Homo sapiens: one gene and its partners. The protein of the gene in region 2 interacts with the protein of the main gene of each other region in a biochemical or structural test. Each region holds a gene or a part of one and is shown on either strand. Other genes may lie near its edges. The genes, in order: CUX1, EHMT2, MED12, AURKA, RERE, FOXO1 and RPA1.

Evidence for each region.
Region 1: the proteins of EHMT2 (region 2) and CUX1 form a complex in vitro, tested with the Homo sapiens proteins (one study listed by BioGRID).
Region 3: the proteins of EHMT2 (region 2) and MED12 form a complex in vitro, tested with the Homo sapiens proteins (one study listed by BioGRID).
Region 4: of the proteins of EHMT2 (region 2) and AURKA, one has a biochemical effect on the other in vitro, tested with the Homo sapiens proteins (one study listed by BioGRID).
Region 5: the proteins of EHMT2 (region 2) and RERE form a complex in vitro, tested with the Homo sapiens proteins (one study listed by BioGRID).
Region 6: of the proteins of EHMT2 (region 2) and FOXO1, one has a biochemical effect on the other in vitro, tested with the Homo sapiens proteins (one study listed by BioGRID).
Region 7: the proteins of EHMT2 (region 2) and RPA1 form a complex in vitro, tested with the Homo sapiens proteins (one study listed by BioGRID).

The regions. Positions count from the first base shown.
Region 1 is NC_000007.14:102,202,126-102,205,625, forward strand, and holds part of CUX1 (Homeobox protein cut-like 1), read left to right. Parts: coding exon 1-79; intron 80-2,265; coding exon 2,266-2,431; intron 2,432-2,988; coding exon 2,989-3,045; intron 3,046-3,500. UniProt on the Homo sapiens protein: May be involved in intra-Golgi retrograde transport.
Region 2 is NC_000006.12:31,887,699-31,891,198, reverse strand, and holds part of EHMT2 (histone-lysine N-methyltransferase EHMT2), read left to right. Parts: intron 1-1,596; coding exon 1,597-1,731; intron 1,732-1,856; coding exon 1,857-1,971; intron 1,972-2,128; coding exon 2,129-2,230; intron 2,231-2,451; coding exon 2,452-2,600; intron 2,601-2,692; coding exon 2,693-2,836; intron 2,837-2,922; coding exon 2,923-3,158; intron 3,159-3,237; coding exon 3,238-3,420; intron 3,421-3,500. UniProt on the Homo sapiens protein: Histone methyltransferase that specifically mono- and dimethylates 'Lys-9' of histone H3 (H3K9me1 and H3K9me2, respectively) in euchromatin.
Region 3 is NC_000023.11:71,121,596-71,125,095, reverse strand, and holds part of MED12 (mediator of RNA polymerase II transcription subunit 12), read right to left. Parts: coding exon 3,280-3,500; intron 2,897-3,279; coding exon 2,750-2,896; intron 2,589-2,749; coding exon 2,489-2,588; intron 2,359-2,488; coding exon 2,222-2,358; intron 2,002-2,221; coding exon 1,870-2,001; intron 1,503-1,869; coding exon 1,376-1,502; intron 938-1,375; coding exon 708-937; intron 333-707; coding exon 252-332; intron 121-251; coding exon 1-120. UniProt on the Homo sapiens protein: Component of the Mediator complex, a coactivator involved in the regulated transcription of nearly all RNA polymerase II-dependent genes.
Region 4 is NC_000020.11:56,382,216-56,385,715, forward strand, and holds part of AURKA (aurora kinase A), read right to left. Parts: intron 2,110-3,500; coding exon 2,055-2,109; intron 962-2,054; coding exon 770-961; intron 1-769. UniProt on the Homo sapiens protein: Mitotic serine/threonine kinase that contributes to the regulation of cell cycle progression.
Region 5 is NC_000001.11:8,352,641-8,356,140, forward strand, and holds part of RERE (arginine-glutamic acid dipeptide repeats protein), read right to left. Parts: coding exon 3,460-3,500; intron 2,960-3,459; coding exon 2,779-2,959; intron 2,481-2,778; coding exon 2,447-2,480; 3' UTR 1-2,446. UniProt on the Homo sapiens protein: Plays a role as a transcriptional repressor during development. May play a role in the control of cell survival. Overexpression of RERE recruits BAX to the nucleus particularly to POD and triggers caspase-3 activation, leading to cell death.
Region 6 is NC_000013.11:40,660,142-40,663,641, reverse strand, and holds part of FOXO1 (forkhead box protein O1), read left to right. Parts: intron 1-3,500. UniProt on the Homo sapiens protein: Transcription factor that is the main target of insulin signaling and regulates metabolic homeostasis in response to oxidative stress.
Region 7 is NC_000017.11:1,875,005-1,878,504, forward strand, and holds part of RPA1 (replication protein A 70 kDa DNA-binding subunit), read left to right. Parts: intron 1-656; coding exon 657-789; intron 790-2,207; coding exon 2,208-2,310; intron 2,311-3,500. UniProt on the Homo sapiens protein: As part of the heterotrimeric replication protein A complex (RPA/RP-A), binds and stabilizes single-stranded DNA intermediates that form during DNA replication or upon DNA stress.

The DNA of each region.
Region 1 (3,500 bases), on a different chromosome or scaffold from region 2:
GGACACCATCGAGCTCACCCGGCAGGTTAAGGAAAAGCTGGCCAAGAACGGCATCTGCCAGAGAATCTTCGGGGAGAAGGTAAGGGATCTGCTCTGGGGGCTTTGGTTCTCCCATCTCTTCTCCTTGCTGAGGACCAAGTATCTATCCCGCAGCCTGTGACCCTCACCCATTTCAATTCACCCAAGAGCAGAGCGTAAGGCATCCTCTGCTCCCAGACTTCCAAGGTGCGGCTGGTGAACATTGCAGCCCCGATCCCATTTGCCGAGCCCCGACTGCAGCCAGGTTCTAGGCTCAGCCTTTCACCTGCATGCTGCCCTTTCGACCCCTCACTTGGCGCTGGGAAGTGGATGGTAAAATCCCCAATTGACAGGGAAGGACACCAAGGCTTGGGGACGTTAACTACTTGCCCCAAGCTGACCGGCAGCCGAGTCCACATCCAGCTTTTGCTGCCAAGGGGAGCTGAGAGGCACCCCTGCAGGCTTCCTTGGCCAAAAAAAATCCCATCTGATCACACAGAGGGACCACCAGTACGCAGAGAGCCAAAAGGGACTTACTAGAAAAAGCTGCAGAGAGCATTATTGTTCCTTTCTGTGTAACTCTTGGATATTGTTCAGTCAGAGAGGTCAAGCAACCTGCCCGGGGACACACAGCTTGGGGATGGCCCAAGCAGGGTGGCCCGTGTTTCCCTATCATCCTTCCCTGGCTCAGGAAAGTGTAATCGTGCATGGACGAGCTTCTAGGCCTTTCTGTTCTTGGCACTTTCCTGGTCACTGAGATTCAGGAGAATGAGGGTTAACCGTGCCTGCCAAATCTAAAATAAACATCATGTCCTAGTATCATTTTATTTATTTATTTTTTGAGATGGCGTCTCACTCTGTCGCCCATGCTAGAGTGCAGTGACGCTATCTCGGCTCACTGCAACCTCTGCCTCCTGGGTTCAAGCGATTCTCCTGCTTCAGCCTCCTGAGTAGCTGGGATTACGAGTGCCCACCACCACACCCAGCTAATTTTTCTATTTTTAGTCGAGTCAGGGTTTCACCATGTTGGCCAGGCTGGTCTCCTGACCTCAAGTGATCTGCCTGCCTTGGCCTCCCAACCCCCTACCATTTTAGATTAAATAACGGAGTGCTGAATAGAAGGAGAAGCACCCCTCTCCCCTAAAAGGCACCTTCCTGAGGGAGCACGTGGCTGGATCAGCAGGGGACAAATCCCACCCCCTCCCCTGCCAAGCCAGGGTCCCTGCATGGCGCCGTCCCCGCACTCCCCACCCCGCCTTCCACTCAGTGTTTGCCGTATGCTGTGCTGTGAATCCCGGTGGTGTCCGATGGCGAACTTTGCCCTGATTTTGCAAAAGGTGAAGGGGGGCGACTAGAAATGAGGATGAGTATTTCAAGTCCCTTGAGATTTCTAGTTCAGTGTTGTAAAAATACCATTTGAGAACATTGAAATAGACATTCGTGCTCATGCCTTAAATTTAGCAGAGACTTAATAACATTGAACTTGTTTGGCCCGTGAGTGCAGTTTTATTCTGGAACTTGAGAACTTTTCAAAAGAGTGATCGGATGCAGCCCCTAAATATCCCAGGGCGGCATCTGTGTCCTGTGGGGGGTGTTTGTGCCTATACATATGTATGGCCATATGGGAGCGTCAGAAAACTCGGGTGTGTACACGCAACTCGGCAATCATCTGCGGCGGAATGTCACTCCCAGGCCGGCTCCCCAGGTCCCACCAGCTCACCTCTGGGCCCCCACCTTTGATCAGGATGTGGTCAGAACAAGCAGACCTTTCTAAATGCTGGCCTGGCTCAGCGTTTGCAGAGGACACCAGCTTCGCCAGTCCCACCGGCACCCACTGCCCCACCTCTGGAGGGATCTTGTCCCTGGAACCTTAGCCTTTCCCGGTGCCACCAAGTGAAGAGCAAGGTGCTTGTACACACCTCCTCCGCGGGGTGTCAGGGTGACAGCCCTGCCATCTTGGCAGGATCAAGACCCTGGGATGAGACCCTCTTCCCTCCCTGGGAGCTGAGAGCTGTGGCTGTAACCATGGCTCACCCGAAAGTCCCCCTGTGCCGGGGTCTCAGCCACCGTTGATCTTTAAATGCATATTCCCTGCCCACAAGCTGTCACCGCCACCAGGCCGTGGTTCTGTGCTCAGAAGTCAGCCCTAGACGCGCCCTCTGCGTGGTGGGTGTGCATTGCAGCAGCATCTGTGGTGTCATGCTAATAGCCAGGCACTGATGGCCTGTGTGTTCGGTGCCACTCCAGGTGCTGGGCCTGTCCCAGGGCAGCGTCAGCGACATGCTGTCCCGACCGAAGCCATGGAGCAAGCTGACGCAGAAAGGCCGAGAACCCTTCATCCGGATGCAGCTCTGGCTGAACGGCGAGCTAGGCCAGGGTGTTCTACCCGTCCAGGGCCAGCAGCAAGGGCCAGGTAATGGGGGTCCTGCCACAGGAGAGGGGCTGCCCCCCCATAGCAAGGACCTGGTCACAGCAGCCCCACCTGGGCTATGCAGAGAGGGAGGAGGGAACTCCGCCCCAGGAGGTGGCCAACCACACTCCCCACCGTGGGCTGGTGCTGGGGGACAGAACCGTCCCCTTCCTCCACAACCTGTTGCCGTGGGACTGACTTCAGTGTTTAGGAGAGATCATGCCTGTCTAATTTTATAAGCAGCAGAAAATGAGTTACCAATTTAAAAAATGCTGTTTATACATAAATACAGGTAAAAGTCAAGTAGCTGAATCAGGGAGTCAGGAAAGAAAGTCAGCCAAAGGTACAAAAGTGGAAGATGTCACAGGCGAAACCTTTCACCTGCTCCCGGCCCGGGGGCCTGGCCTTGCAACAGCAGCGCCTCCCCGGCCCGTGGGTCCCCATGCCCGCCCCTCCCCAGGAGGAATGGGAAGCCTCCCCGGGCCTTGCCACATTCAGTTAGGAAGCTTTAAGCCCTGGGCCGCGTTCCTTCCTTTAATTATAACCTTTTTCTACTTTAGTCCTCCACTCCGTGACATCGCTCCAGGACCCGCTGCAGCAGGGCTGTGTGAGCTCAGGTAAGCAGCCAGTTTCTGTTGCTTTTGCATGAAATGTCTCACTGCCTTTTCTGTTGTCCCGTGCTGTGGTCTGTCCCGGCGAGACTCCGAGGGACCGCACATTCTGGATTTGGGGAGCTGAAATATGGCATCCTATCTGCAAACGGGGTCCCTCTCTGTGTCAGTTTCTAATGGAGAGCGAGCTGACAGTGCATGGAGGGACTCTGCCAAGATTTGCACGCCCACTGTCATCCTTTGTCGGCCCAGAGCCTTGTGTTCAGGGCTGGGGTCTAAGTCGGAGACAGATTCCCCACTCAGGGGGCTTACCGTCTGATAGGAAGGGATAAAGCACGGGCACACGTCCCTCTCCTGGTGGGGTCATGTCGGGGGACTTCTTATCTAACCGGAAGACATCCAGGCAGCCTCTGAGCAAGAAAATGGGGAGCTTTGAGCTTGAGCAGTGGGAAAGGTAGGGT
Region 2 (3,500 bases):
CCAAGGCGGGCAGATCACGTGAGGTTGGGAGTTCGAGACCAGCCTGATCAACATGGAGAAACCCCGTCTCTACTGAAAAAAATACAAAATTAGCTGGACGTAGTGGTACGTGCCTGTAATTCCAGCTACTCGGGAGGCTGAGGCAGGAGAATCGCTTGAACCTGGGAGGTGGAGGTTGCAGTGAGCCAAGATCGTACCATTGCACTCCAGCCTCGGCAACAAGAGCGAAACTCCGTCTCAAAAAAAAAAAAATTTTTTTTTGTCTTAGGTCTCTCTCAGTATTTAGGTTTCCCCATCTTCTTTGTGTTTGTTTGTTTGTTTGTTTTTGTTTTTTGAGATGGAGTCTCACACTGTCACCCAGGCTGGAGTGCAGTGGCGTGATCTTGGCTCACTGCAAGCTCCACCTCCTGAGTTCAAGCAATTCTCCTGCCTCAGTCTCCCAAGTAGCTGGGATTACAGGCACCCACCACCATGCCCAGCTAATTTTTTGTATTTTTAGTAGAGGCAGGGTTTCACTATGTTGGCCAGGCTGGTCTCAAACTCCTGATCTCGTGATCTGCCCACCTCGGCCTCCCAAAGCGCTGGGATTACAGGCGTGAGCCACCACACCTGGCCTGATTTCCTCATCTTCTAAAAAAAAATTTTTTGGCCCAGGCGTGGTGGCTCACGCCTGTAATCCCAGCACTTTGGGAGGCAGGTGGATCACCTGAGGTCAGGAGTTTGAGACCAGCCTAGCCAACATGGTGAAAACACATCTCTAATAAAAATACGAAAATTAGCTGGGTGTGGTGGCGGGTGCCTATAATCCCAGCTACTCAGGAGGCTGAGGCAAGAGAATTGCTTGAATCCAGGAGGTGGAGGTTGCAGTGAGCTGAGATCACACCATTGCAATGCAGCCTGGGCAACAAGAGCAAAACTCAATAAATAAATAAGAAAGATTTTTTTTTTTTGCCATTTATTTGTCAAAGAAACCAGCTCAGTTGTCCTACAGAATTTTTCACATTTAGGAGTTGGCTGATTGGGTGGAGATTGACACATCCTCTCTGCCCATATTTCTTGTAAACTGATAGATCTAGAGGCGGAATCAGCTTCAGGTGCCAAGAAGACTTGACAGTGGGTGCAAGTGCTTCTGGCCACATCACATCAGGATGCATGGAACATCTAATCTGGTCATTTTTCTTGTTAGTGATAAGATTGACCAGTGGGTTCAGGTGATGTCAGCCTGAACCTTTCATATAAAGTTTCTCATGAGCTTTGTGTCTAGTGTTTTTAGCAACCATTGGTGGTCTTGCCTGTTTATGAACATCATAAAAGGGGTATCAAAGTATGTTTATCTTCTGGTACTTGCTTTTTGTTTTTTAACTTAATATCACATTACCAAGATCTGTGCACATTGCTGTCTGTAACTTTTTCACTGCTGTGTAATATTCCATGCACCCTCTCTTTATGTGGCCCTTTGTCTCCTCTGCTACCCACACTTATCCCCAGCAGCCATCCGTGGGTAGTGGCGGGGGGCAATGGTGGTGGTGGTTTTCTTTACTCACCTCATTGTCTGAGTCCTGGGGGTTGGATATGTCTGTTCTGCCTCTCTCCCAGTCTGAAGTTGAAGCTCTAACTGAACAACTAAGTGAAGAGGAGGAGGAGGAAGAGGAGGAAGAAGAAGAAGAGGAAGAGGAGGAGGAAGAGGAAGAAGAAGAGGAAGATGAGGAGTCAGGGAATCAGTCAGATAGGGTAAGAGACGGAGGCTGATATCTCCAGAGGAGTGGGAGACTATGGGGCTGGAGGTCTGGTCCTGAAGGTGTTGGGGGGGCCCCTGGGGGTGAGGGTTCCTAACTCCTCCTCCTCCCCCTTCCCAGAGTGGTTCCAGTGGCCGGCGCAAGGCCAAGAAGAAATGGCGAAAAGACAGCCCATGGGTGAAGCCGTCTCGGAAACGGCGCAAGCGGGAGCCTCCGCGGGCCAAGGAGCCACGAGGTGAGGAGGCTCTGCTGCTTTTGGGTGCCCTCCAGCCCCCGCCCGGCCCCCCAGAGTGTGTGCACGCACACACACGCTCTCGCATGTCCACCTGCATGTACCCACGCGTCCAGGCACCTGTGAGCTCGCACTCTCACTCTCTCTGTCTCTGTGTCAGGAGTGAATGGTGTGGGCTCCTCAGGCCCCAGTGAGTACATGGAGGTCCCTCTGGGGTCCCTGGAGCTGCCCAGCGAGGGGACCCTCTCCCCCAACCACGCTGGTAATTGCCAATTGCCGGGACAGGGAGCCACTAGGGGGCGACCTCAGGGCAGGAGGGAAAGGGAAGGAGGGGAACCACGCCAGAGCCGGGGTGTCCATGGCCAGGCTTTAGGGGTTCTGGGGCATGGCGGGGTGGGGTAGGGAGGGAGTGAGAGGACCCGCCAGGGGTCCCAGTAGGTGAGGTGCAGAGCCTCCCTCAGCTCCTCTTTTCCTCCATCCAAGGGGTGTCCAATGACACATCTTCGCTGGAGACAGAGCGAGGGTTTGAGGAGTTGCCCCTGTGCAGCTGCCGCATGGAGGCACCCAAGATTGACCGCATCAGCGAGAGGGCGGGGCACAAGTGCATGGCCACTGAGAGTGTGGACGGAGAGGTGGGGCCGTGGGCTGGTGGGAGAGGTGCCAGGGCGTCCAGTCCCCGGCCCCAGCCTCACGCTCTCTTCTCACCCATCCTCACTGCGCACAGCTGTCAGGCTGCAATGCCGCCATCCTCAAGCGGGAGACCATGAGGCCATCCAGCCGTGTGGCCCTGATGGTGCTCTGTGAGACCCACCGCGCCCGCATGGTCAAACACCACTGCTGCCCGGGCTGCGGCTACTTCTGCACGGCGGTGAGTGACCAGTGGGGCAGACAGGTAGCATGCCCTGTGGCAGAGGGGGCCCCAGTAACCTGACCATGTCGTTTCCCTGCTCCCAGGGCACCTTCCTGGAGTGCCACCCTGACTTCCGTGTGGCCCACCGCTTCCACAAGGCCTGTGTGTCTCAGCTGAATGGGATGGTCTTCTGTCCCCACTGTGGGGAGGATGCTTCTGAAGCTCAAGAGGTGACCATCCCCCGGGGTGACGGGGTGACCCCACCGGCCGGCACTGCAGCTCCTGCACCCCCACCCCTGTCCCAGGATGTCCCCGGGAGAGCAGACACTTCTCAGCCCAGGTACTGGCCTCCCCCTTCTGTACTGTCTGTTCCCTCCCCCACCCCTATTGCTCCTGGACATGAGCTCCTTCTTCCACAGTGCCCGGATGCGAGGGCATGGGGAACCCCGGCGCCCGCCCTGCGATCCCCTGGCTGACACCATTGACAGCTCAGGGCCCTCCCTGACCCTGCCCAATGGGGGCTGCCTTTCAGCCGTGGGGCTGCCACTGGGGCCAGGCCGGGAGGCCCTGGAAAAGGCCCTGGTCATCCAGGAGTCAGAGAGGTGAGTGGGGAGTTGCTCAGGCACAGCAACTGGGGCTGAGGCCAGAGGAGTGGTGTCGAGGCTGATGCTGGAATCTGAGG
Region 3 (3,500 bases), on a different chromosome or scaffold from region 2:
AAGAACCCCAAGGGTCCCTTCAATCTTCTCCTTGGGTGGGGGCTTCACCTCCTTCTCGACATCTGGCTTCTCAGGGGATGGACTGCCCTTCCCCTCACAGGGCATAGTAGGGGAGAACAACTGAGAGAAAGGTGAGAAAGCAGAACATGAGAAGAAGGAAAGTGGATGAGGGGGCAAAAAAACATGCCAAAAGCAGGCATAATGGGAAGATCCAAGGATCCAGATTCTGCCACGCTCAGGATTGAACTTACTGAGAAATCAGGCTTCTCCATGTCCTCAAAGAGAACACTGGAACTAGGGTCAATGTCCATAGATTCTGAGAGCCCTGGATCCTGAGGGCATAGAACATAAGCGAAGTTGCTTTAGCCCTAGGGAGTGGCTCCCACCATCTGTAAAACTTCATTGGGGAAGTGGAGAGAGAAGACCAGATTGGGGAAAGCACAGGATCTGGAGTCAAGCCTCATCCAATCACTTAACCAGTATAGGCCTCTGTTTTCTTCAGTTTGAAAATGGGGATAAGAGTACCTCACAAGGCTGATGGGAGGAACCAATGAAACAATTGATGTGAGAGTGCTTGGTCAATCACCAAGTGCTAAGAAAAATACTACCCCCCTCCCCCAGGCAAAAGAGGCTCTTAGAGGCCCCTGGGAGCCATGAAGATGGAAATGTCAGAAGAAACGATCTAGTGCAAGGAAAAGCCCACTCACTTCCAGCTTGCTGCTGCTGCTGCCTTCAGCCTCCTTGTGCTCTGGGTCATCGGCAGGATCATCAAAGGGAGAGGGAGGCCGGGGACCAGGGGCTCCAAAGGCAAGGTCCCCTCGGGAGATGAGAGTGCAAGTATACATGTTGTGGGAGAAAACATCATGTCGAATCAGTTCACAGAACAGCAGTACTAAGTTAAAGAATTCCACCCGCTCACTCTCACTTCGAGGGTCCGCTGGAGGAAGGGAATGAGGAAACATAAGTTAGGAGAACACAAAAAGGTGGGCCAAAAGAGAGAGGGACACACCTAAGGCAATAATAAGAGTGATCAAATAGAAATCCCAGAAATTGTTGAGGGACAAAGTGTGGTTGGTTACCCCACATGCTGTCCCACACATCATCTCAGAAAGGAATGTAACATCTTTGTTGCGATTTATGCAGTGAAAATGCTTCAATCACAAGCTCTTGTTTTTATCCTTCTCTGTATTTCTCTACTCTGTTTAACTGTAAGATGACCAGTTAAAGAGGATCACTAGAACTACATCTAAAAGTCATTCTGCATAGAGCCCAAGAGAGAAATATAGACCAGAGGGCTGTTAATTATGCTTTCTGATGACAGTGGTGGGTAACTGAGTCTAGGCAGAGGTAACTAGAGAGTGGTAGGGGTCCGTACTCAGCATGGGAGCCTGTGTATCCAGAAACTGCAGGAGGACATCCTGGAAAATGGGAGCACTGGGAGCAGAAAGGGAGCCAGAGGCGATGGAACCCTTCTCATCTGCGGCTTCTGATTCTCCACAACGCTGCAAGATGACAGAACAAATTGTAGAACTGACTTTTACCTGCTTCTTCACTCCTCAATGTGTAGGCCTTAAACTACCACCTGCTTGACCTCTACCCCATGCTTTTCACTTTCATTCCCCTGCTGACCTCCATGTTCTTTACCACCTCCCAACTGAAGCCTTGATGTTATCTCTAACTCTTACTACAATCCACTCTTCTCTACTTTCGCCTCACGTCCGTAACTTTGCCTTTAGGTTCTCTTTTGCTTCTTTACTCTGTTCTCACACCTTCAACTCTGGTCCCTCCACCACCTCCATCTCTCGGTCTCCAACCGCAGTAAATTCCTTCCCATTGGCCAATCTTGTTCTCTTATCTCTGCCCTCTAACCTCAGCCTCAATCTCCGCCTGTCTCTTCTCCAGGAGCTTGGCTACCACCATAGCACGATGCCGACCAGAACGCTTGCAGCTGACAGCCCATTCACATAGCAATGACACCACAGCATCATCATCTGAGGAGATCTGGAGAACAAAGGAAGAGAAGGAGGAGTAAGGTAGGGGTGGGGACAAAGAAATGAGTTCCAATTTCCTAAAGACTGGGCTCTATCATAAAACATCCTGGGCCCAGTAAGATCATTTCTGCAGATATGCTCTGCTTTCAATGCCTCACCATGACTTCCCTCTCAGACATATTATTGCTCTTGCAATGTTTTTTGCTCCTTCTATTCCCCTTTTCGCTTACCTCATGCCCATCCTTGCTAGGTCCCAATCCAAAGATTCGGTTACAAAGGGAGTCAAGAGAGTTGCTGAAGTCAGAGCGTTCAAAACTATGGCTGTCCAGCACTTCCAAAGTATGAAGTACCCGTCCAATGGTGAAGCCTAAGGAGGAAAAGTGGTAAAGGGGACTGAACCAGAGGCCCGGTGCATTCTGGCTCTTAGATCTACATGTCCTTACTATCCCCATCCTTTCCTCAAACATATTTCCTATTATCTGTTCTCTGACACATACCTGCAGTAGCTTCCTGGCATTTATCGAAAGACCAGCGAACTTCAACTGCCTGTCCCCGCTCCTTGATCTGCTGCTCGATCTCCCGCAACTTTGCACGGACCTGCAATGTTAAAAAGGAAGGCTACAAGGATGTACCAAGGCATATAAAAGGCCAGAGCCCCAGGCTAGAAGAATAGTACTAGACTCCAAATCACTACTTCTGAAAGAGTAATTTAGCCTCATAGCCCAATCTGAGAGTACCAGGCTAGTGGTCAGACATACCTGCTGAGTGAAGGCACTGTTACCCTCTGGCATGGGCAGGTTGGACGGGGCAATAGGCAAGTGGTCAAGTGGTGAGCCGGTCTTAATTCTGCTATCAGTCAGTGAGTAGTGCCAAACCAAGGCACTAGGACAGCACAGGAGGATGGTCTACCAGATAGAAACAGCTAAGTCCAACTCATTCACCATGGTTACCCCTCTGGAATCCCATTCTAAGACCCAACCCGTAGATTCCAGATCCAAAGTTATTCTGACTGGGTCCCCAAGACAGGCATCACTCCACCCCGATCCCCTCCCTTCACTCACTTTCCTAAAAGGCTTTGGGCCCACTATTTAGCCTTGGAAGGGAGAGAGAGGCTGGTGAAAACCCCCAAAGGGGACTAACACCCCATTACCAAGAAACAACAACCTCCAAGCAAGTACTCAGCACCTACTCCCACATCCAATTTGGAATTACCCCTATTCTCTGGGATGGGCACCTGATTCTTCTCAGGCTATCTCTCAATGCTTCCTTGGGCCCGCCTAGTACCTACCTGTAGGATACAGCTGAGGCCAAAAACCAGGGGCCGGTGCTGAGGGCACATAAGCAGGTCACTAAAGGGAGTCGAGGGTGTGCTGCTAGTTGGGGGCTGAGGAGCAGGGGTGGTGGGTAGCGTGCTTGTTGACTGAGCAGATATAACATGAGATGAGTGACTGCTCACACCATCCAGCTGCAGGGCCAGTCTCCGTGTACAGAAGTAGGCAAGCCGGCGGG
Region 4 (3,500 bases), on a different chromosome or scaffold from region 2:
ACCCAGACACTGTGACAGATAAAAGCAGTGATCAGTAATGGCAGTAGATGGGTGCTGAGCAGACTGGGCAGGTGCAGACTGTGGCCAGCGGGAAGCAGGCAATGGGAAGCACAGCCCATGTGAGATGCCTGCCCCTCCCAGCCCCAGCCAGGTGTTGCCAGGCAGAGACACACCAGGCCTGATGTGGCCAGACTTGAAGTATTAGCATCTGATTCAAATTTGAAAAACACTGAAAGAAAAAAAGGAAAAACAAAAACCCACCAGCCGTAGTCAACCTGCAGGTAGCTGCTCGCAATTCCTGCATACCTCAGAATAAGGGGTGCCATTCCCCTTCACTGTCCACCAGAAAGACTTGCCCATATAAACTATTCTATTAACAAAACATTAAATCCTCAAGTGATTTTTCCAGGATCAGAGCACTTAAGTGCTCTTTGAAAGATGACAAATTTAATCATTTTTTGTGGTACTATGAAAAGCAGGCCCTCTAAAAAATAAATTTATACTTAAAAAAAAAAAAAGGAATACAATTTTATTTTAACATGCAGAGCATGGGAGAATCACAGGAGAATGCTTATAACCCAGTGCAGTACAGAAGCTTATCTAATCTTTTTCATAGGGGAGGGGGAGGTGAGGAACGGGGCCATGCATTTGAAGGCAGTGCCTCGTAAGAGGGAGTGAAGGGACCTGGGCAGTGGGAGGCTGACATTACAGGAGGGGGAGGGGTGCAGCATTGGTGAACATTCTTTTGAACATGAACCTGAAAACTCACCGAAGGTGGGACTGTATTTCTACTTCTCTTCTGAGCTGATGCTCCACTCCGGCTTTCTCCAGCTGAGCTTTAAATAACACTTTAAGAGCCAGAATAAACTTGCTTTGCTTTTCTCTTGCCAAATAAACATTACCAAACTTTCCTTTACCCAGAGGGCGACCAATTTCAAAGTCTTCCAAAGCCCACTGCCTCCTAGGAGGAATTTGAACACTTTAGAATGTGAAGAAAACAAAGCTTTTCTAACAAATTTTCAATGAGTAGCAGACACATTCTACAAATAATTTCGTATTCCAACTTCACTCAATATGCATCCTCAGCAAGAACCAAGGCAATAACCACTATCAAAGAGCTGCCACGACATGAAACCCTGACGTCCCTAGCTGCCGTCAGGTGTGAGAGTCAGTGACAAGGAGCAGTCTCGGGTTTTAGACCTGAAGCACTCTATGGGAAATGTCCCAAGCCCGTACTATGCTCAGAGGAACAGGGCCATGACAACGCTGAAGACCACAAAAAGGATAAGTGACCAGAGAGGGAGGAATGCTTCCAGACCATCTGGGGGCATGTTTCAAACTAACCCCAGCTGCTCCCTCCAGTCCCAGAGGTGCTAATTCTCTCTGGGTGGAGAACCACTCTGGTGGTGGAGACAGAGCCACTGTTACTAATGGAAGCGGGATGGAGCCCACAGGCTAGCTGGGGCATGAGAACCAGTGGATTTAGACTCTTAGCCTCTGTTAGACCGCTAAAAGCAAAAGAGTCTGTGGGTTCATTCCTCGCTCCTCCCGGTACATTCTAGAGTCCAGATAGTTCAGAGACTGAGAGGAGGCTTTTAGAAAAGCCCTGGGGAAGACATTACAGCCAACCTTTACAATAAAGAACTAAAACTATAATACTGTCAAAACCCTCAGTCATATATGAGTATATAGTTCTGCAACATATTCTATTTTTTAAAAACTTGCACTTTTGTACAATAAAAAAGTACAGACGCATAAACCATATGTAGTGGTTATTTCTAAGGACAGAGAGGAACTTCCACACATTTCTATAAAAGATTCATACAAGCTTTTTCTAAATTTGAAAGCCATTTTTTAAAGCACTTGAGTTCCTAGTAAAATACCTCATTACACAAAATTCCATTTTTTTTAAGATTGGAAATCTGGAAACATTTATATCCTCTAAATGCAAATAAAGGCCTCATTTTTTTCCCCAGAGTTCCCACAACGAAATTTGCAACGAAATAATATATTCTAGTAGAACAGTACAGAACTTTGTAAATAAGAAAGCTTACTTTTTTGATTCTTCATTTTTCTGTTTTGATGCCAGTTCCTCCTCAGGATTATTTTCTATATGGAATAAGTTAAAAACCTGTTTTTAGAATAACTATATAGGATAAGCTAAGCTGTGAATAGAGGTGAATCAAAGAATTGGTCACCAAAATATTAATGGTATGTCAAGAATGATAAATCTGTTTTTTTTTTTTAAAGTTTTCCTTATAGAAAAAAAGGACTACTACACCCTGACTTCCATCATGTGAAGCCTTTATAGAATTTCTAAAGATGAGCAGACGTATATATAGACAGGCCCTTCTCTGATAAATTAAAGGCAGACTATGCAGGCTCTTCTGAAGCCTCAGTTTCCAAAGAAGAGCTTTTGTGGCAGAAGTACCAATCTTCCCATGCATGACGAGCTGCCAACTCGTCACCTTTTTCCCCTTACTAGGTGGGCCAGCCAACAGTCCATACCCTACATACGAATTATCACCAACATGTAGCAAAACATAAGCCAGCCACCCTCCATTTATATTAGCTGCCAAGGGGAAATATAAAAATAAAAGCCACCAATTCAGCAAAATGCACAATGAACAGTTGTGCAGCAGAGGACTGGGGTAACTATTTCATCAGCCACAAGGACATATGAAACATTTCCACTGGTCTGTCTCCAACATAGCAAACTCGAACAGCACACAATGCTCTGCTCAGATATCTGGATGCTGGTCCAAACTCTTCCTCCAGATGCCCCTGTCACATGTGCACCCCTCAACCCCCAGGACACTCACTCAATTAATATCAATCTAATCACCATCCCTAACTCCTCTTTATTCATCTTTCAGGTACAATTTATTGCCCAGTTCTAATGAGTCTGCATCGTAAATGAGCTCTCAAATTTGTGTGCACCTCTCCATCCTGGCTTGTCTTTGGATAAGTTAACTGCTTCTGAGTCTTAGCTTCCTCCTCTGTAAAACTGAGTTAATAACTGGCTACCTTCATGAAGTGGTTACGAAGATTGAAAGAGATGACGTGGATGAAGCACGCACTTATCTCAGAGCCTGCAGGGAATGAGCACTCAACAGTTGGTAAATAATTGCATCCACTCTGCTCCACACAGAGCAGGTTATTGCCATCTCTGACCTCAACCTCCTTCCTGTCTGGTACTCCTAAATCCAGCGTTCTACTCCAATTTATTCAGTACTTCCACAGTAAATTTTTTTTTTTTTTTTGAGATAGAATTTTGCTCTTGTTGCCCAGGCTAGAATGCAATGGCACAATCTCGGCTCACCACAACCTCCACCTCCTGGGTTCAAGCCATTCTCCTGCCTCAGCCTCCTGAGTAGCTGGGATTACAGGCGTGCACCACCACGCCTGGCTAATTTTGTATTTTTAGTAGAGACAGGGTTTCTCCATGTTGGTCAGACTGGTCTCCAACTCCTGACCTCAGGTGATCCACCTGCCTCGGT
Region 5 (3,500 bases), on a different chromosome or scaffold from region 2:
CAAGATACGGACACACACAGAGGAGCCAAACCAAACCCCGAACAAAGGGAGGAAAATCCGAAGGAAACCGAGTGGTTGGGCTTCAAAGACACCATGAAGGTCAGGGCCTCCTAAACAAACTGTAGTTTATCTGGTGAGGGTTTCGGGTCGAGGGTTTTTTAGATGGAAGAATCTCAGCGCTTCGCCTTGGGATATGGGGAGAAAAGCAAAGCTAACAAGAATGCCTTCGGACGGCTTTCAAGCACAGACCTCAGAGGACTCGACTCTTCTTTGGAAAAATGGATGCCAAAGGAGGAGATAAAGAAGGTTTAACTGAATGGTAGATGTTGTGTTCTACCAAAAAGAAAGAAAAACCAGAAGCCGAGAAGGTGGGGGCCTGGATGCAGGAGTCTGGGAGCCCAGCAGGAAGAGGCCTCGCTCAGAGCCACGGGAACAAGCCTGCCATGAGGGCCTGTCCCCACCCCAGAAGGAAACGAATGCCTTCAAGCCAATGTGGCCTGAAGTCCCACGACAAAAGGTTCATGTCAGCTTTGCCTCCCTGTGAACAAACTAAAGTTAAGGCAGAAATGGAATGAGAGAAAAATGAAAGAAAAAAAACTAGAAACATTTTCAACAGACAAAACAAGCCTATCCCAACTGAAACCAAACACGGTTTTTAAGAGAAACTGGAAATGTCGCTATTTGACGCCAGAACCTGAATTTGAGCCAGTAGCTGCTGGTTTCTAGATCAAACTATCAGCATCTCTTCCTGCTCCCTCTGCGGCCTGGGTCCTGGATGGACTTTGTGTCCGCCGACCCAGTGTGGTCTCTGTCCTACAATTCTTGGGATGGGACCAGCACAATGGCAGAAGAGACCTCCAGTGTCTGAGAGAAAAGGATCGGAAGAGGCCACGTCCTGGCAGGAAGCAGGGCCGACAGAGGGCAGACACCCCAGAACACCCGCCCTCAGCCTGGGAGAAAGTGCGTTACGGCTGCAGCCTGGAAACGAGGGCAGGCTCTCTCCAGGACGGTTCCGCTCAGAAGGGCCTGGCCTCCTGAGAAGCAGCCCCCACACAGCATGCTTTCTGAATGCACTGTGGGTGGGACTCCAGTTCCCACTTCCAGGATGAAGAGTGGGACTCAAATGGTTTACCAGTGCAATGTGGGGTCACCATGCAGACCTGCCCCTAGGGTAAAATACAGGCTGCCCCCAACACCTGTCTTAACTCCAGGATCTCCCTTGCTCAAAAGTGGCCTCAATCTGTGGCAAGAAAGATGGGGCCGTCCTCACCACAAGATCCAAGTGACAATGCGCATGAGAAGGCAGCCTTCTAACACATCCCTTTGGCAGGCATATGTCCTGGGTCACTTGTGTGCTGAGTTATTTGTATGGAATCATTTTCTTAGATGATGAAATTTTCGGAGTATTAAAAAAGACATTCATCCAGAACAATCAAGTGTGTGTACACAGAAATCTAGAAGGAAATCTACAATGGACACAGGCCCATGCGCTTTCCATCCCGTGGAAACAGAACAGTGACACTGGAGAACAGAAAGTGAACATTCACCTCCTGCACTCCCTGTGCAAAATGGAAGAGGTCTGATGGAGCAGATGTCTGTGCTGCTGGCAGAGCACAGGCTAGGAGCAGACACAAGTGAAACGCCAGGCAGAAAACAGAGTCTGTAACATCGTCCCTGCAAACCCTGGATGCTCGCTGCTGTGACCAGGCCTCGGTCCAAGCCTCTGTCCATGTGGAACGCCCCTTTGCTCCCTTTAATTAAAGGGATAATTATATATAACTTTTTATTAAAAAATCAACTCTGTATTCTGTCAATAGTTGGTAGGAATTCACAATTAGTGACATGGCTGGAAAAAATAGATCACAATAGTAGTTTATGGAAGAAAAAAAGGCTGTTCTAAAATTATTTATTTACAGACGTAAAAAGCCATGCTGCAGAACTTTCTCCAATTATGAAGATTTCCTACAATGTATTAAAATAAAAGATTTTTTTTTTTAAAAATTATAGCTCTTGGATTCCAAATTCCTATGCCCCCGATCTGCAAGCCTCGTGGGCTCTGGAGCACTCGTGGCGGAGTGTGTCAGTGTGTCTGCACGCACAGTGAAGGGTGTGAACTGGATTCTAGCACCTACTGAGAAATCAAGGAAAAGAAAACTAAAGCCAAACCCCAAGATTGCAGGGAAGCTTTCTGGATGTTCAGTCCAGTCCAGGACTCACTAAGTTTCTGGGGGACTGTCATGCAGGGAGATCCAAACCAGTCTCAGGAAATCCTCTCGACAAACGAACACTACTATGTGGATACATTTTTAGTTGTGGGTTTTTAAATATATAAAGAAATCTTTAGAAGATATTCTTTTTGCTTTTGCAGCTCCTATTTTATGTAAAAAGTCCTGTTTCTCCCCCCAAGAACTGGGGTTTCCACAGCCAGCGTTAACAAATAAATAACTTATAACTGCTTGTCACCTTCTTTCTTCAGTCGACTGGAAAGACAAAACAGGAAAGCGTATTTAGTCTCAGGCCTAGGCAGGCAGTCACGCAGGCTGGAGGCAACCCCAAAGACAACAGCCAGGCAATCCAACCCCAAGCCCGCAGCCTCCTGTGTAGCTGACCTACCCTCCCAACACCTCCCTTCCTCTGTTTCTCCCATCACCATGGTTCCACAATGTCCCCTCCAGGGCCCAGCAGGCAGAGGGGGAGGAGCCTGGCCCTGGGCACACGGGGAGGTTGGGAGCCTGGGCTCAGATAACCCCTCCACTCCCTCCCAGCACCCCACCTCACCTGTAATAATCTTCCTGACTTGGTAGGTGGCCACCATGCATGTGGGGGTGTCCATGCAGCCACTGCTGCTCCATGGCCAGTCTCTGCAGCTCGGCCGACTGGGCATGCATGGCCTGCAGCTGGTGGGCTGCTGACATGGGGGGTGGGATGGCCCCAGGCAGGTCACGGGGGTAGGGGGTGCCTGCCGAACACAAAACAACCTGCGCTACAGAAATAGCCAGAGGACTGGCCAAGACCAGGGCGGCACAGGCACAGCAAACGGCAAAGAGCACAGGAGAGGTGCCAGTTCGGACACAGGAGCCAGCCCCTCCCAGACTCTGCAGACAGCCAGAGGGCAGAGCCTCTGGGGAGGCAGGAGGTGCCCTTGGGTGCCTCTGCCTGGACCTGCCTGGCCCCTCCTCCAAGGCCTCAGCCCAAGTGCTTCTCCTTCAGAGACCTGCCGTGAGTCCCCTCTGCTACTTTCACCGGCTCTTAGCAAGGCTGATGCATTTATGACCCCTACCCCAGACAGCCCCCAGAGGGCAGGAGGCTTGTTCCCCCACGGACCCCCTGCATGCAGGGGGAGCGAACCCACCTGCTCAATGCATGAATGAATGAATGAGTAATGAATGAAGACAGCAGACCAGACCCCAACCCAACCCTCACACGGCCTCCCCGCCCCTCCTGGAGGGGAAGTCTTACCGAAAACTGGGTGGCGAAGCATCTCGTGCTCGTGTGGGGGC
Region 6 (3,500 bases), on a different chromosome or scaffold from region 2:
AATTGTCTGCCAAATCTTGTTTTACTTAACATTTGAATTTAAGTACTTGACTTACTTGCTCATCTATCAATTCCACTTCAGCTGTTACAGAGTATTAGCCATTTAAAAAAAAAATCCTCCCCCCTTTTTTTGCATTCAAAGTACAGTGTGTACTTACACCATTCTTTAGTCCTTGGAAATGGATACAACCTACTTCAACTTGCTGGAGTGCCTTTCTTTAAAGATAAAGGAAGTGTTTTGGGATATTTTTAGTTTTGCGTCTCAAATGGCATTGTCAGAGTGTTAGTCTTAAACTAGGAATATGCTTACACTTTTTAAGATTTAGGTTTTTAAAAAATAGATTCTGATGTTAAATCATCTTTACAACCATTTTTATCAGGTTCTTGTTCTGATTTTTTTAAAAATGCAAGAATAATTTAGTTTTTTTTTAAATTTATTTGCCAGAGCTAGGAGACCTGTTAAGTTATCTGTCTGGAATTGGAGGCCCTTGGGCAGCTCCCAGTGGGAGCCTAATGGGGCTTTGCTTTGGAGTAGGCTGCCTTTCTCAAATGAGTAAGTGTTTCAGGTGTAATGTCAGTTGGTTTAAGTCTGATTGCAGCAAGTACATTTTCAGTTTGAGTAAAAGGGTATTTTAAGAAGAAAAGAAACAACCTGAGCTGTTCTAACTCATAACTAGTCTTTTGGTTAGTTTCATAAAAATGAGTTACTTGTTAAAACCAAGTTTCACTCTCAGATCTGAAAGACTCCTGTTCTAAGAGTCATAAAAGAGAAATTTTACTATGAATTTTAACTTAAATCCAGTTTTTAAATGCAAAGCAACCAAAACTTAACTGTTTTAGGACCGAGGAGAGGTTGCTTTGGCACAAAATATTTCCTGTGATTTACTACTGGGAATTAGGCTGAATCTTTAATTAAATAGTTTCTTGTGTGCTGCTTCCTGGGGCCTGCCTGAAAGTTTGAGTCATTTGCATAGGACAAACTAGTTGGAAAACTGTTAATGAATTCAAAAACTTTTAATGTCATTCTTTAGATAGTTAAGTGCTGGTTATATTTGAAGGATATGCATTTTGTGTTTGTGGGGATGGTATGTTAAATGTCTTACACTTGTTGTAATATTGGCTAGAATTGCTATAAGGTCACACACAAAGTGGAACCTAAGACTTTTGGAAAACCCGGGATCTTCTAAATCTAGTGCAGTATTTATAAATAATGAAACTTCATTTCCATGACCTGTTTTTTCACATAGAAAGCCTTCTAAAGCTTGGGAAGTGGTAGTTTGAACTCTGATTTTTTTTAATAAATGGCAGTTTTGAGTTGACTCTTTTGATATTATTAGGAACACTTTAGGTTAAAAGAATGACTTTGACTATACCACTTAACTCTTGTTAAATAAATTTTTAGATTGTTTTATTAGAGGTATCCTCTTTGATTTAAAGATAAATATCTTTTTTTTTTTTTTTTTTTTTTTTTTGAGTCAGAGTCTCACTCTGTTGCCCAGGCTGGAGTGCAGTGGCGCAATCTCGGCTTGCTGCAACCTCCGCCTCCCAGGTTCAAGCAATTCTTCTGCCTCAGCCTCCCGAGTAGCTGGGACTACTGGCACGTGCCACCATGCTTGGCTAATTTTTGTATTTTTAGTAGAGAGGGGGTTTCACATATTGGCTTGGCTGGCCTCGAACTCCTGACCTCGTGATCTGCCTGCCTTGATCTCCTAAAGTGCAGAGATTACATGCGTAAGCCACCGTGCCTGGCCCCAAAGCTTTTTATTTTTAAGATAAATCTTTAATTGGGAGTGATGTTTCTTATTTGGCCTATGAACTGACAGTGGATTTCCTTATGTTTTGAAATAAATATTCTGTAATTTGGGTATAATCTATAGGTGAGTAATTGAACCAGCCACAGAGATCCCGTTAGAAAGATGGCTGCTTTTTTGTTGCATGGTCACATTTGACTTAGAGAATCCTGGTGAGACCGAGTGGTTAGAGGATCTGAGACATCTTTCCTACTTCTGGATTGTCACTGAAATTACCTTAAAGAAAGCCTTGATAGGCTGGGCGTGGTGGCGCACACCTGTAATCCCAGCACTTTGGGAGGCTAAGGTGGGCGGATTGCCTGAGCTCAGGAGTTCAAGACCACCCTGGGCAACATGGTGAAACCTCATCTCTACTAAAATACAAAAAATTAGCCGGGTGTGGTGGCAGGTGCCTGTAGTCCCAGCTATCGTGCCAATAATCCCAACTACTCGGGAGGCTGAGGCAGGAGAATCGCTTGAACCTAGAAGGCGGAGGTTGCAGTGAGCCGAGATCACGTCACTGACCTCCAACCTGGGCAACAGAGGGAGACCCTGTCTCCAAAAAAAAAAAGAAGAAAGCCTTGATAATCCTGTATATGTACTTGGGGAAGCGATAATGAAGAAATAATTTAAAATGGATGAGGGGGTTATGCAGCTAAATGTAGCATCTTATTAAGGGCTGAAAGTTACCTGAATCTATTTGAGAGCTAAAACATTTTGTTCAGAAATTCCAAAATAGATGCCAAATTGGAATACTTCATTTCAGACTCCCAAGAGCTTTACTTTTTACGCATGGTTTTGTGGCATGTCCTTGGTTGAGGGGATGGCGAGAAGAGTGGCCTCTTTTTGAATGATTCTCATTTTTGTTGTTGTTGTTGTTGTTGTTGTTGTTGTTGTTGTTGTTTTTCTGAGCCAGGGTCTCACTCTGTTGCCCAGGCTGGAGTGTAGTGGCTTGATCTCAGCTCACTGCAACCTCTGCCTGCCCCTGGCTCAAGTGATCCTCCCACCTCAGCCTCCCGAATAGTTGGGATTATCGGCACGAGCCACTGCTCATGGACTAGTTTTTTTTAAGTGACAAACACTTGACTATTGAAAATAAGGCATTTTAATTCTCATGTAAACTTGAAAAAAGTTAAAGGTCTTCAAGATCCCAAAATTGCTGAAAAGGTATCACATTAGCAGCAGACACATAGATTTCATGCTCCGCACACACAAGGAATCTTCTCCGAGGCGATACGAAATGGGATGAGGGGGAAGAATATTCAGTGGCAAGTTAGAATGCCTTGCAGACTGTAAACATGTTGCCTGTCCTTGTGCTTCTAGCCCCTTCATCCAAGCATCTAAACTGCAGTTTTGTGTTAGGCTTTCTAAGATAGCAGCTGTATTTGGCTGGAATTTCTCTGGGGAAGCCTGAATGATTTGCATTTTTCTGGAACACTCTGCCCTTGGAAACTACCCAGTTCCCTGGCATCATGGGAATTTACCCAGCCATTTTTTTGGCCTATATGTGCTGTAGCTTTGGGGCTTTTTGGGGATCCTCTTGGAAAGGCAGTGTAAATACCACATAGTGATTGGGGAAGGCAGAATTTTCAATTGTGTGGGAGTTGGTCTGCTTCCCTGCAGTTCAAGATTTGCCTTTGCCTTTGTAGCAACAACTTGCAGAGACTTGCCCAGCCCCCCCAGGATCTCCCTGGGGTCATATAACCAAGCA
Region 7 (3,500 bases), on a different chromosome or scaffold from region 2:
TTCCCTGTTCTTTCCCAGCGCAGGGCAGCTGCTTAGGTTTGGATTAAGGAGGCGGAAGGGTCTTAGTGGTCACCCACTTAACATATCTTGACCAAAAACTGATTCCTGCCCTTTGCACCCGACGAAACTCATTCTTACAGACTTCATTCTAGACTTGCTAGTCCTTCAGACGCATTGAGATCTGGGAGTTGTCTGGGGATTTGGAGGCGATCTATTTGTGATAGGTCCCTTACATCCTGTCTTTCTTCATGTGACTAGTGCCTTGCCATCAGTTTTACCAGTTACAAAAGTTGATTTTCTTTTTCTCACCCATTATCTTGCCCGTTGAGGCAAGAGAAGTGTTTAAGAGGGCGGCCTTCAGAAACAGCAGTGTCTGGATTCGTCACCATTATTACTTTGACCTCGGGGCTGACATCAGCAAACATAGCAGTGAGCTGCTGTGTGCGCAGCCTTCATCCTAGATTGCTTTTGTAGCCTCCAGCCTCAGTCTCTATTTGATCTGCGTATCTCTTGCATATAAAAAGGAAAAGCTTTGCCTCTCATGTTATATGATTTCACTAGTGGCACCTCCAAAATTTAGAGTTATTGTAAAGCTTACTATAAAAAAGCTAAGTAGAATAGTAATAACTCCTTTTCGTTTGCGTTTGTTTTTAAAGGTTCTACTGTTTCTAAGGCTTATGGTGCTTCAAAGACATTTGGAAAAGCTGCAGGTCCCAGCCTGTCACACACTTCTGGGGGAACACAGTCCAAAGTGGTGCCCATTGCCAGCCTCACTCCTTACCAGTCCAAGTGAGTTGTTGCATAGAGTAAGTTCAGAGTGTACTTATGAAATCGGAGAAGCTATTATGGACTCTTGAGTTATTTATGCGTGAACTTCAGGGTCACCACCAAATACCACCAAATAGAATGGGTTTACTCTTTTTTTTTTTTTTTTTTGCTGAGGAGGAAAGGGGTACAAATTGTGGCAAACTTTTAACTCTTGTTGGAAAATATAGTAACAATAGCAATCTGCCATAGCCTGTGGGGTTTCATTCATTTTGAAAGAATTTGAAATTAAAAATACTTAATGCTTAATCAGTTGATAGTCTTATGAGTAAAAATAAATATTTCTGATAATTCAAAAGGCATTTAATCTTCTCCTATAAACAGGTGACTTCGTCTTTGGTTTAGTTGGCTAAAATAATCTGCACTATTTGTATTAAACACATGAACATACCCTGAACATAAATTTCTTTTATATGACTTTTTTCCACCAAAAATTAATTTGAAGCCGGGCGCGGTGGCTCATGCCCGTAATCCCCGCACTTTAGGAGGCTGAGGCGGGTGGATCACCTGAGGTCGGGAGTTTGAGACCAGCCTGGCCAACATGGTGAAACCGTGTCTCTACTAAAAATACAAAAATTAGCCAGGTGTTGTGGAGCACGCCTGTAATCCCCGCTACTCAGGAGGCTGAGGCAGAAGAATCGCTTGAACCCAGGAGGCGGAGGTTGCAGTGAGCCAAGATTGTGCCACTGCCTTCCAGCCTGAGTAACAGAGTGAGATTCCGTCTCTCAAGATAAATAAACAAAATAAAGTAATTTGAATAGTTAAAAATTAGAGTTCTTTTTTCAGAATCCTTCCAGATATGTTTATATTTATTCTTCAATACTCTGTAACGTAGGAAAGATATTTTTCCCTGTGAAATTATAAGTGGGGTACCTAATGTGCCCTGTGCCTCCTTTTTCCATGCTTCTCTCTAAGGTCATGCTGCTTCAGTGTGTTCTTCCTGATGGTCCACCAACATCGTGTATTCTATTCAGGGTGTGTTACGAATGAGACAGAAGTGTAACACCAGTTATATCAGTTCCCATAATTGAAAACTGTGGCAAAATATAATTGCTGGTGTTACTGTATTTTCCAGCTTAGAACCTTTCATTAAGGGGATATGGTTGCCTTGGTGATGCTTTTTGGAGAAGGGAGAGAGTTTATAAATTTACTTATTTGACAGGAGAATGAGTTAGTATTAAATCACTTTGCATGTTTTACTATTTGCTTATTCTGTAAACTGTCAAACCCATGTGTCATCTTGGGGTTTTAATTAGCTGGATTAAAATACAGGTTGGAAAACGGAATATGCGTAAGACGAGAAAGGCTGTAGGAAGATGATTTCTTACTTGATCTTTTCCAAGGAAGACCCCATACACTAATATGATCGATTTGGTTTGTAGGTGGACCATTTGTGCTCGTGTTACCAACAAAAGTCAGATCCGTACCTGGAGCAACTCCCGAGGGGAAGGGAAGCTTTTCTCCCTAGAACTGGTTGACGAAAGTGTGAGTGTTTGTCATGCTGGGGAGTGAGGGCAGTGGGCTCGCCGGGAAACAGAAGGCTCAGCTCTGCGGAGGGCAGTGGGCTCGCTGGGAAACAGAAGGCTCAGCTCTGCGGAGGGCAGTGGGCTCGCCGAGAAACAGAAGGCTCAGCTCTGCGGGCCTATGAGGTGAAGAATAATAGTAGGCCAGAGAGAAGCATGATTGTTATTGTGCTTTTCCCTCTGTCATAGTCTTTTGATGCTGTCTGGAGTAGAGGGTTAAGGTCATAAATAAAATCTTTGATCTTAAATGACAGCGTTTGTAGCAGTAGAAAGTAGTTTTCTAAATATATAAGTAGCCTCCTGGGCAGGAGAAGCTGGAAACAGTCTGATTTGCTGGCAGGTGTACTGGAAGCACTGGGAGGTGATGCCTGCTTGTGAGCGCCGTGGAGCTTTGGGACACAGCAGAAGGCACACAGTTGTGACCTCGATATGGGAGTGGTTTTGTGGGAAATGGGTTCTGACTGTGCAGATTCTCTATTTGCTTTATTTAAACTAAACAAAACCATGACGATGAGACAAAATTCCTATGCCATGGAAGTACGACAGTCTTGATAGCTGTTAATCAGTCCATTCGTTTTGCTAATAATTCCTGAAATTGCCGGGTGTGGTGGCTCACGCCTGTAATCCCAACACTTTGGGAGGCCAGGGTGCACAGATCACTTGAGGTCAGGAGTTCGAGACCAGCCTGGCCAACATAGTGAAACCCCGTTTATACTAAAAATACAAAAATTAGCTGGGTATGGTGGCAGGTGCCTGTAGTCCCAGCTACTTGGGAGGCTGAGGCAGGAGAATCAATCGCCTGAACCAAGGAGGTGGAGGTTGGAGCCAGCCAAGATTGCACCACTGCACTCCAGCCTGGGCGACAGAGTGAGACTCCATCTCAAAAATAATAATAATTCCTAAAATGTACTTCAGCATTCTTTTCAAAGTGCTGCAGATTTCCTGTTTGTTCAGACTCCCAAATAGGGAGAAAAAAATAGATGTTTTTTTTGGAAGTTGATATAACACCCAAAATGTTTGTGTGATGGCAGAATCAATATTAGAACCTAATTTTTTTTTAGAAATTATTGCTCTAATGTATGGTGGTTGGCTAAAATTTCTTGTCCACTTGTAAATTTTGGCTGACAGAAAAGCAAAAGTGAAAATCAGATC